Regions from separate parts of the Homo sapiens genome. Here region 1 is linked to region 2. Evidence: fine-mapped expression QTL. A gene starts in region 2. The other region holds a variant in brackets. All regions are shown on one strand. Distances are from middle to middle.

Region 1 (4,276 bases), 22 kb before region 2:
TTTTTCTCATACCTGTGAAAGATTCTGCAGTGAGTTTCTAATATCATGTAATACTCTTCGCAACTGCATTTCTATGGCTGAAGGAGGATTCACAGAGCACACTCGGTAAGGGTAGGTGGCATGTCTATGTGAGTAAGGACACCCGAAAGGGGAAGCGAAGGCACTACAAGTAGCCCCTGATATGTTGGGAACACTGTGAGTGCTCAGAGTTCTTGTGTGCTCACACAGGGGCCTTTCTTGCCACTCAGAGTGGATGGAATGAAGGGAACAGGTAGACTGAGACATTGGTGGTGGAGCAAGCCGTGAACAGGTAGGAGTCCTTCCATGATGGCATTCCTCCACCCGCGGCGCCTCACTCTGGGGGGCTTCTTCTTTCTTCACAGATGATGGAGAGATGAAAATGGTCGATTTAACTAAAGACTGACCATCATGTTCCATCACCCGCTTTTCCAATTCCTGCTCCTCTTCAGGTGTGTACTTATAGGTGAAGGAAGGTGGGCTGCATCTGGTCTCTTTTCCTGGAGATAATCGAACATTGACAGAGGACACAACCCTTACTGGGCTCAATAAGGTGGTTGGTAAAGACTGAGACCTTCTTAGAGGATAGCCAGCTTTTGCAAATAAGTACCTTTGTTTTAACAAATCTTTTGATTTTAGCAGGCTACGCCCCATCCTTTGATTAGACAGACTGCAAACCTTCATTTGAGCTCTTTGCAAAGCTGTATTAACTCTGTCCATGGAAGAGGGAGGCCCAGTTGTATTTTCAGAGCTCATATCACTGCATTTAGCTTCAATAGAAGCCAATGATTTCAGAATATGGTGTGTGGTATACTGAGTAAATTCACTTTCACTGCTTTTACCCACATCACTTTCAGCACTTGCTTCCCTCAGTAGCTCTACTGTCTCTGCTGGAAACAAATCCTCTTCCACTTCAGTAATTTCAATGATATGATCCCCTGGACTACAGGTGGACTGTTTAGTTCCTGTATTCTCAATGGTGTTGCACTGAGGGAAATCCTGGCTACCTGATTTTCTTTTGTCTGCAACTGCTGCTGCCTTCTCTAGTCCCTTCTGAAGAGGGACAAGAGACTCCTCCTCTGATTCATTAAAATAAGGCTGGTCTTGTGCTGTTGGTGTGGCAAGGTCTTCACCAAGTGACGTAACTGTTGTCTCACTGTCACAACTATCAGCACTACTCCCCATAGCCTGCAAGGACTCCTGAACCTGTGAAAAGAAAATAGGTGGAAAGATGAAGAATATATGTAAGAAGAGTCACTAACAAAATACCAAACCAACATGGTGCTTCTATAATTTCACTGTCTCCACTGCAGTTGTGGCCCTGCTGTTGCTCAAAATTGTTTTATTGCTCCTGAGCAGCAACCACATCCCTCCTTCCTCTCACTTTCTCACAAAGATTATTTCAGAACTTCACTGTTTTCCTAAAATTCCCTTTCCAACAACCTCCCCCTTTCCTTTCAATACAACACACTGACTCATAGAGAAAATGGACAAACACTTCCTAACATTCTTCCCCAACATCTAAAAACTTCCTTGTATCTCTCCCCATCATTCCCTCCTTCTCTCCATTCTGAAAGGAAACTCAAAGCGAATCCCTCCAACCTGGGTTCCTGATCATATCCTCTCCAAGACCAGGGTATCTCTCCAGTTTCAGCCCGGATTTTTCTGAATCAGTTCTTCTCTTACGGTTATTTCCCTTAGCTGAACACTTTCCCCAAGTCATTTCATGTTATTATAAAAGGACAAAAAGACCCCTCACTCTTAAGCTATCATTCATATTTGAAAACCAGTCAACATTCCTATCTTTTCTTCCATACCTTCTGAAAGTTTCTCCTCCATCTCCCAGTGTTTCTGTTCACTTAATTACTCTTTCTCAGTGAACTTACATATGCCTCTTGTCTGTTTACCCCTTAAATGCTATGTTCCTAAAGGCTCTTTGGGAGTTTTCTCATCCCAATTTTCTTTAGAATTTGCTTAAAAAATGTTTCAAATGCTTTTTCTGTGCATTCTGTGTACTCTACATATAGACTATATGCTTCTTGGGGATAAAGATGTGCCTGTTCTCTGGGTTATCTCACACAACCTAGTGTAAAAATCAGTATAACACTCAGCAAGCTATAGGTCCACAATTAATGTCAGTTATTAAATAGGCAAAACAATTACTGTAAAATAATGAAATATAATGATGGTTAAAAAAATAAGAAAAACAACAGACAAAACAGGTTAATGATCACAATAATCTCTGTTTACTGGTGGTCCAAAAATTAAGGGGAAGATAGATATTTTTAAAAACATATTCAGAGAGAAGAATTAATGAAATCTAAAATTTATAGTCAAATGCTTAGATAACATCTACATGCCAGGAGTTTTGTTCTGTCACTTGAAAAATAAAGATTATACAGACTCAATATTAAAATATATAGTAATACAAAAACCACCTTAAA[A/C]TGAGGAAGTTAATCATAGTGCCTATTAGAACAGAAAATTTTACCTGAAGATGATTAAGGGATAGGCAGTCTGTAGAATCTTCAGCAAAACCACTGCTATCGGAATGCTGACTTGCAGTACGTAACAGATGATCTATGAATAAAAAAATGTGGCTATAAGAAACAGATGATCTATAAATAAAAAAAGTGGCTATAAGAAATTACTGAGAGCAATATTACTACAGAGATATGATTCCCAGCAGATATAAGATACACAATATTTGACTGCTTCTTAGAAAAATATGCATTACTTATGCAAAATTATGTCTTCAAAGTACAGGAGGTAACTCAAATTCAAACAAAAACTGTATCAGATCTTCTATTAGAATCTCTCGGTATTCGCTCATTAATTAAGCTCTAATTATAATCTATTTTGGTAAATCCAATCAATGTTTTATCCTTGGAGGAAAACTGAAGTAAAAGATGGCTCTAATAAAAACAGAAGTCCCAAAGTAAACCATTTCCATTATGTAAATATGTAAAGATATTTAGGAGGTAAATTTAGAAGTTCATATAGAGAGCATAGTGTGTAAAGATTTCTATTATCTTCCCAATTTAAAAAACACAGTTAGGGCTGGGCGCGGTGGCTCATGCCTGTAATCCCAGCACTTTGGGAGGCTGAGGCGGGCGGATCACGAGGTTAGGAGATCGAGACCATCCTGGCTAACACGGTAAAAGCCCGTCTGTACTAAAAATACAAAAAATTAGCCAGGCGTGGTAGCGGGTGCCTGTAGTCCCAGCTACTCGAGAGGCTGAGGCAGGAGAATGGAGTAAACCTGGGAGGTGGAGGTTGCAGTGAGCCAAGATTGTGCCACTGCACTCCAGCCTGGGCGACAGAGCAAGACTCCGTCTCAAAAAAAATAAATAAATAAATAAATACAATTAAGGCCAGTAAATTAAATAATCTGAAATGCAAGCATACTTAAATGTCTCTGGTGTTTTATGATGTTTTAAATGATGCAAATGTATAAGGTATGAAACAATTCTTTCATAAAAATTACATAAAACTCAACCAAATAGGTTCAACTACAACATAATATTGTTAATCTTATAAAATCTTTCTGCTTATTTTTCTGCCTCAAAATTCTAATTCCTGGTTAGTATGATCTATAATGTTTTACATAAGTAAAAAGGCCAACTAAGCATAGCAAGTATGTTCACATTCTATCCACACTACAACTACCACAATGGGAGAGACTGTACAGTTCTTACATTCATCAAGGCAGAAGCTTCAAGAGACAGCAAAGTTCTGCAGAACTTCAAAAGCAAAAGGCTAAATAAAGTGTGTTTACCAAAACCATATTCATTTAAGATATGAACCACATAGAAAAAGAGCCAGATAATATAATTAAATAAAATTTAAAATCTATTAAAGTCAACTTGGTTTGAAAAATACCCCACTATAGACTCAGTTTCCATGGAATACATTTTTCCCATTAAAAATTTAGAATAATTTTGTAATATCATTTTGATAGTAACAAGACTGCAAAATGAAATATAAGGAATTATTCCATATCCTTGATAAGCCTACGTAAATTGGAATACTTGTGAAACTGAACTGCAATAAGCTGTTACCACCAGTACTGATAAGGCATTATATTCTTGGTAAAATGATTAACATCTTATGCTATAGCAGTTATCACTATAATTACGTATTTTCATATCTTTAAACTAGATTGTGAGCCTTTTGAAGGCAGAAACTATTCTTCTTTGTATCCCAGTACCTAGAATAAGCTGAGAATAAATGTTTGCTGACCTCAATCAATGATACCCAT
Region 2 (4,276 bases):
GTAATGCTAAGCCTATTTTAAGAAACCTAAAGTAAGCCAATACTGTACTTAGGACTGTATTTAAATAAAGAGTCAGATTGGAGGCTTTAAAGGACTTAAGTAAAAGTTACAAAACAACTTCTCAAACACATTTCTAAGTGGAAACCTGAAAGATACTAGTTTTATCAGATCTCACCCAAAAGGTCTTGAACATGTACATTCAAAATTTCAAGCTTTTACATTATAGACTATTTTAGTATTTAACAATTAAATGAACCAATAGCACATTAATACAATTTCTTGATCCATACTTTGAGTGAAGTATCTAATATCTAAGGCTTATCTGAAAACTGGGAGATTGATTTACAGCTAGATTGTAAATCTGGGGTCCAAGGACTTCAAGCAGTGTATTTGCCTCTGTGCATCTTTAAACAGAAGTTATTCCATATATGTCATCATATTTCAGAAGGGTCTATGACACTTCCAATAAAGGGTACGAGTTCTGTAATAAAGAGTGTTCAATAAGGTTCCAGTCGATTCATCAAAACAAGGCATTAATATCATGGTAGCCAATATCTTGTCTGTCTTTAGAGGAGGCAAACTGGCATATGAATCACTTTCCACAACAAAACAAAACAAACTACCCTAACTCTAATATTTGAACAAAATATTAAGAAAATCTAAATTGAGAAAGCAAAAATATGCTCGAAAGCAAACACCAACAAAAGTTTAAAGGCTACATTCCTGATTTTACAACTAGCAAAGTGGAATAAGAAACAAGTACATTTTGCTGTAGTCAGATTTACGTGCAACATGATTCATCTCCTCTGTATTTTATCAAACATTTTTGTACCAGTTGCCAAAGCATGTAATTAAACAGATTTATGCAGTCTGAATGCTTTTAAAAGTTCTATTCCCTGAGAATTCCAGTGCCATCTGACAATTCCATGTTCAAGAAGTAAACTATAAGTACAAAGTTAGCTAGTTTTAATAGCTCCCCAAACAGAAACAAAATTAAAGCCCATTTAGTGTAGTTAGGTAAATTAAACTCGTCTAAAACACATTTGAAAGGAAAATGATTCCGTGCCAGTTGTACAGATGCCAAAACTAAAGCAAAACAAAATATCCTGTTCGAGATGTGAGAATTCTTTCAAATAAAAACAGAACAAATATGGCATGATTATCTGTTCTGGATTTCTGATCTCTGATGCTAACACGATGCGTGAGTAGCTCAAGTCCTAACTGTAAAGTCAACACGGTCACCAAATAATCAGCGGTCACAGCACTTCCATTTCTAATCGCTTAGAGGAGGAAGCTATCCGCCGGCTCACTTTCCGGTTTGTAGCTTACAACGGTCGCGGGACCCACAGGGACGCGGCCCGAGTGGCTCTGCTCCGGCGTCCCGTCCGCACGGATCTCCCCCGGGACGCGGGCGGACCAGGGAGCACTCACCGGCAGTCCTTGAGCCATATCGCGATCTTCTCGTTGGGCACGTTTCCTGGGGGTAGAGAGAGGGGACAGCACGTTACCACCCAGGAGCACTACGACGGCGGAGTCACCCTGGACCCTCCCAAGTAGGAAAATCTACCACGGCAAATGCAGCCTAAGCGACACGTCTCAGTGTCCCTTGGCAGGGAAATCGGATGGCACCCAGTTGTCTGTGTTGACGCTGGGGGCGCCTCGTTCAGCGCGCGCGTTTGAAGGTCGGAAGTGTCCCCTCTCCCCTCGGCCTACCGTGCCCGAGGCTCTCCCAGAACTCGTGGCAGGCGCCCAGGGCGCACGAGACTCTCCCCAGCCCACCAGCCTCCCCCCGGAGCCCGGCCGGGAGCACCGACCTCTTCCCCCCGCTGCCGGCAGCTGCGCGCCGGGGAGGTCCTCCTCCTCGTCCTCCTCCTCGTCCTGCGTCGTCGCTTCTGTGGACAGATCCTCCGTCTCCGACGCTTGCCAGGAGCTGCGGCACTTGGCCCAGGCCTTCCTCCTGCGACTCGCCACTTGCCACTCCAGTTCCTCCTCCGCCTCCGCCGACGACGACAGGGGCCGGTCCATGGCCGCACTGGGGGCTCCGCTACCCCAGCCGGACCCTGCGCGAGACAAGGCGGCGGCAGGGACCCCCGCCCTTGCTGTCAGCGCCCGGCCGGGCAGGGGGCCCCGGGGAGCTGAAGCGGGCGCCGGAGGAGGAGGAGGAGGAGGAGGGGACAGGGAGGGAGGGAGGGAAGGAAGGGGAGGGAAGGGGCGGAGGGCCGGCGCTTCACATGAAGGCGGCCGGGCGCGCGCGGGAGCGCTAGTGGCCCGAGGGAGCGCGGCTGGGAGCCGAGCGCCCGCCCGGCCCCTGCTCCCCACCCCCTGCCTGACGCGCCCGGAGCAGGCCGGCCGCTGCGCGTCTGCGCGCCTTCCCTCGGCGGCGGCCCACGCCCCCTTCCGGCCGGGGCCGCGCGGGGCGCGGTAGGGCGGGGCGCGCCCGGCGCGACGCGGAGCAGGCCAGCCCCCGACTACTGCCCGCGGAATGGGCAAGATTAGTTTGTTAATAATCTTTCCTCCTCTCCTCCTCCTCCTCCCTCACCTAAAAATAGAACGTAAGTGGGGAGGCCAAGTCTCACAAAACATCCCCCGCGAGAAAACAAGTGTCTGCTTGGGCACCCTGAAACATACACTTGAAAGAGTCGCCTGAATATAGACTCTTTAGTGTCCAAGGAATTGGGGTAAGGACGGAAAGAGGTGCTTGATTGGTGTTGCCAAAATGTAAAAACTGCAAAAGACTAAGCTTCCTGGAGTGCTACTTTCATACTTAAAGTTATTTATCGTGTTTATGTTATGAATGAAAATGAATTGTGAAAGGATATTTAATCTGGAAATTTCACATTGAAGTTGGACTTTGGTGAGGGAGAATAGAGGAAACAATTGGGACAATGTGGAGATAGTTGCTTGGATTTTGGTGAGACAGCATGATACAAGAAACAAATGATGTCAGGGTTCAAAACTTTTTAAAGCCAGCTTTGGCATTCCGTTTTGTTATGTTTAAATTCTCATTAGCAAAAATACTCAAATTCTATCCAAAACCAGACACAATGTGACAGACCTATCAAGCAGCATTGTTCCCCTAAATGTTACATCTGAACTATACATATAAGTAAGGCTTCCAATATTTTATTGTACTTGGCTATGCTCTGAAGAACAAGTTAGAACACTTTTTAAAATCTTAACGTGATTGAAAAGAATATTTTGCGTAGACAAAATATTTTAAGGAAGGAATTATTTTTCATTTGAAATTAAAATCCAGAGCATAGTAAAATTCCTAATGGAAGCATTCGAATTACAAGGTAATTAAGTGCATTGTCATTGATAGCTACAGGAAACCATAACTTTTGGAGAATTTGGAATGAAGAATGCTCTGGAGATGAAATAGTGCCTAGTTTTTGTCCAGGCATTTACACATAAGTCATAGACTACTAAAATAGCACACTGATTTTCCTGCCTTCATTCTTTCCTATCTCCTTTCTAGCGCATTGCTCTAGATTTACAATTCCAAGACATCTTCTAATGGTTTACTAATATCCCCAAGATCAAATCCAAAATCCAGACTAGCTTTCCAGAACCATCATAATATTCTCCTGAGTCTCATCTATGTACTGCCAAATGTCAGGGGAGTTAGAACAGTGATATTAATATCTCTATGGCTTGAAATTTCACTACTAGAAAATCTTTTCTTTGAACCTATAAGACTTTCTCAGCCTTCAAGGGTCCTGTAGTAGGATGCAGCTAACAGTTTAATGGCTCTCCAAAATAGGTCAGAGTCTCGCTGCCTGTGTGGAAGATGAAAAAGAGAATGAATAAAGAAGGTACCTAAGAAGAAGCATTGAAAGGGCTGGTCAAGTGCCACAAAATATGCTGCCTTCAAAGTTTTATCCAGGGTTCTTACGTATCCACCCTGTTCCTCTGCTGCTCCCAGCTTCAATTCTATCATATCTAAGTGCTGTTGCCTACTCTGTCTTTGCTAATTAATTCATTCCTGTTCTTTCTGTCCACTACCTTCATGACTTTCAAAATCTAGCTAAGCCAGAACTTTTTGACTCCACCATTCCACCACTCCTGATCACACCCCTCCCACAGGGATCTGATATACAACAGCATGTCTATGTCATTTATTTGGGGACTGGATTGTAGAGTAAATAATATGACTGGCCCTGGAAGGTATGTTTGGCTTACTAGCCAGATTGTAAATTGTGAGAGATGATAGAACATTCTTCAGTATTCTTGCACCCCTTACACTTTTAAATGCTGATCCCACAAGGGATAATGG

What was found. PIP is the estimated chance that this variant, and not a neighbour inherited with it, causes the effect. A credible set is the group of variants that fine-mapping cannot tell apart.
Region 1: its variant is the best candidate, but not a certain one, in a credible set for the expression of ITPRID2 in whole blood (INTERVAL, PIP 0.89).

The regions. Positions count from the first base shown.
Region 1 is chr2:181,912,164-181,916,439 of GRCh38, reverse strand. It overlaps ITPRID2 (ITPR interacting domain containing 2), which reads right to left. Exons shown (of 18, transcript NM_001130445.3): 10 at 2,507-2,595; 11 at 13-1,224. Among named protein-coding and RNA genes, the nearest start is that of ITPRID2, 23 kb to the right of the region's middle. The variant A/C (reference allele first, on the strand shown) is at 2,463.
Region 2 is chr2:181,889,816-181,894,091 of GRCh38, reverse strand. ITPRID2 (ITPR interacting domain containing 2) reads right to left here and starts at 2,362. Exons shown (of 18, transcript NM_001130445.3): 1 at 1,815-2,362; 2 at 1,432-1,477. The coding sequence starts at 2,025. RefSeq lists silencers at 1,726-1,865, 2,156-2,485.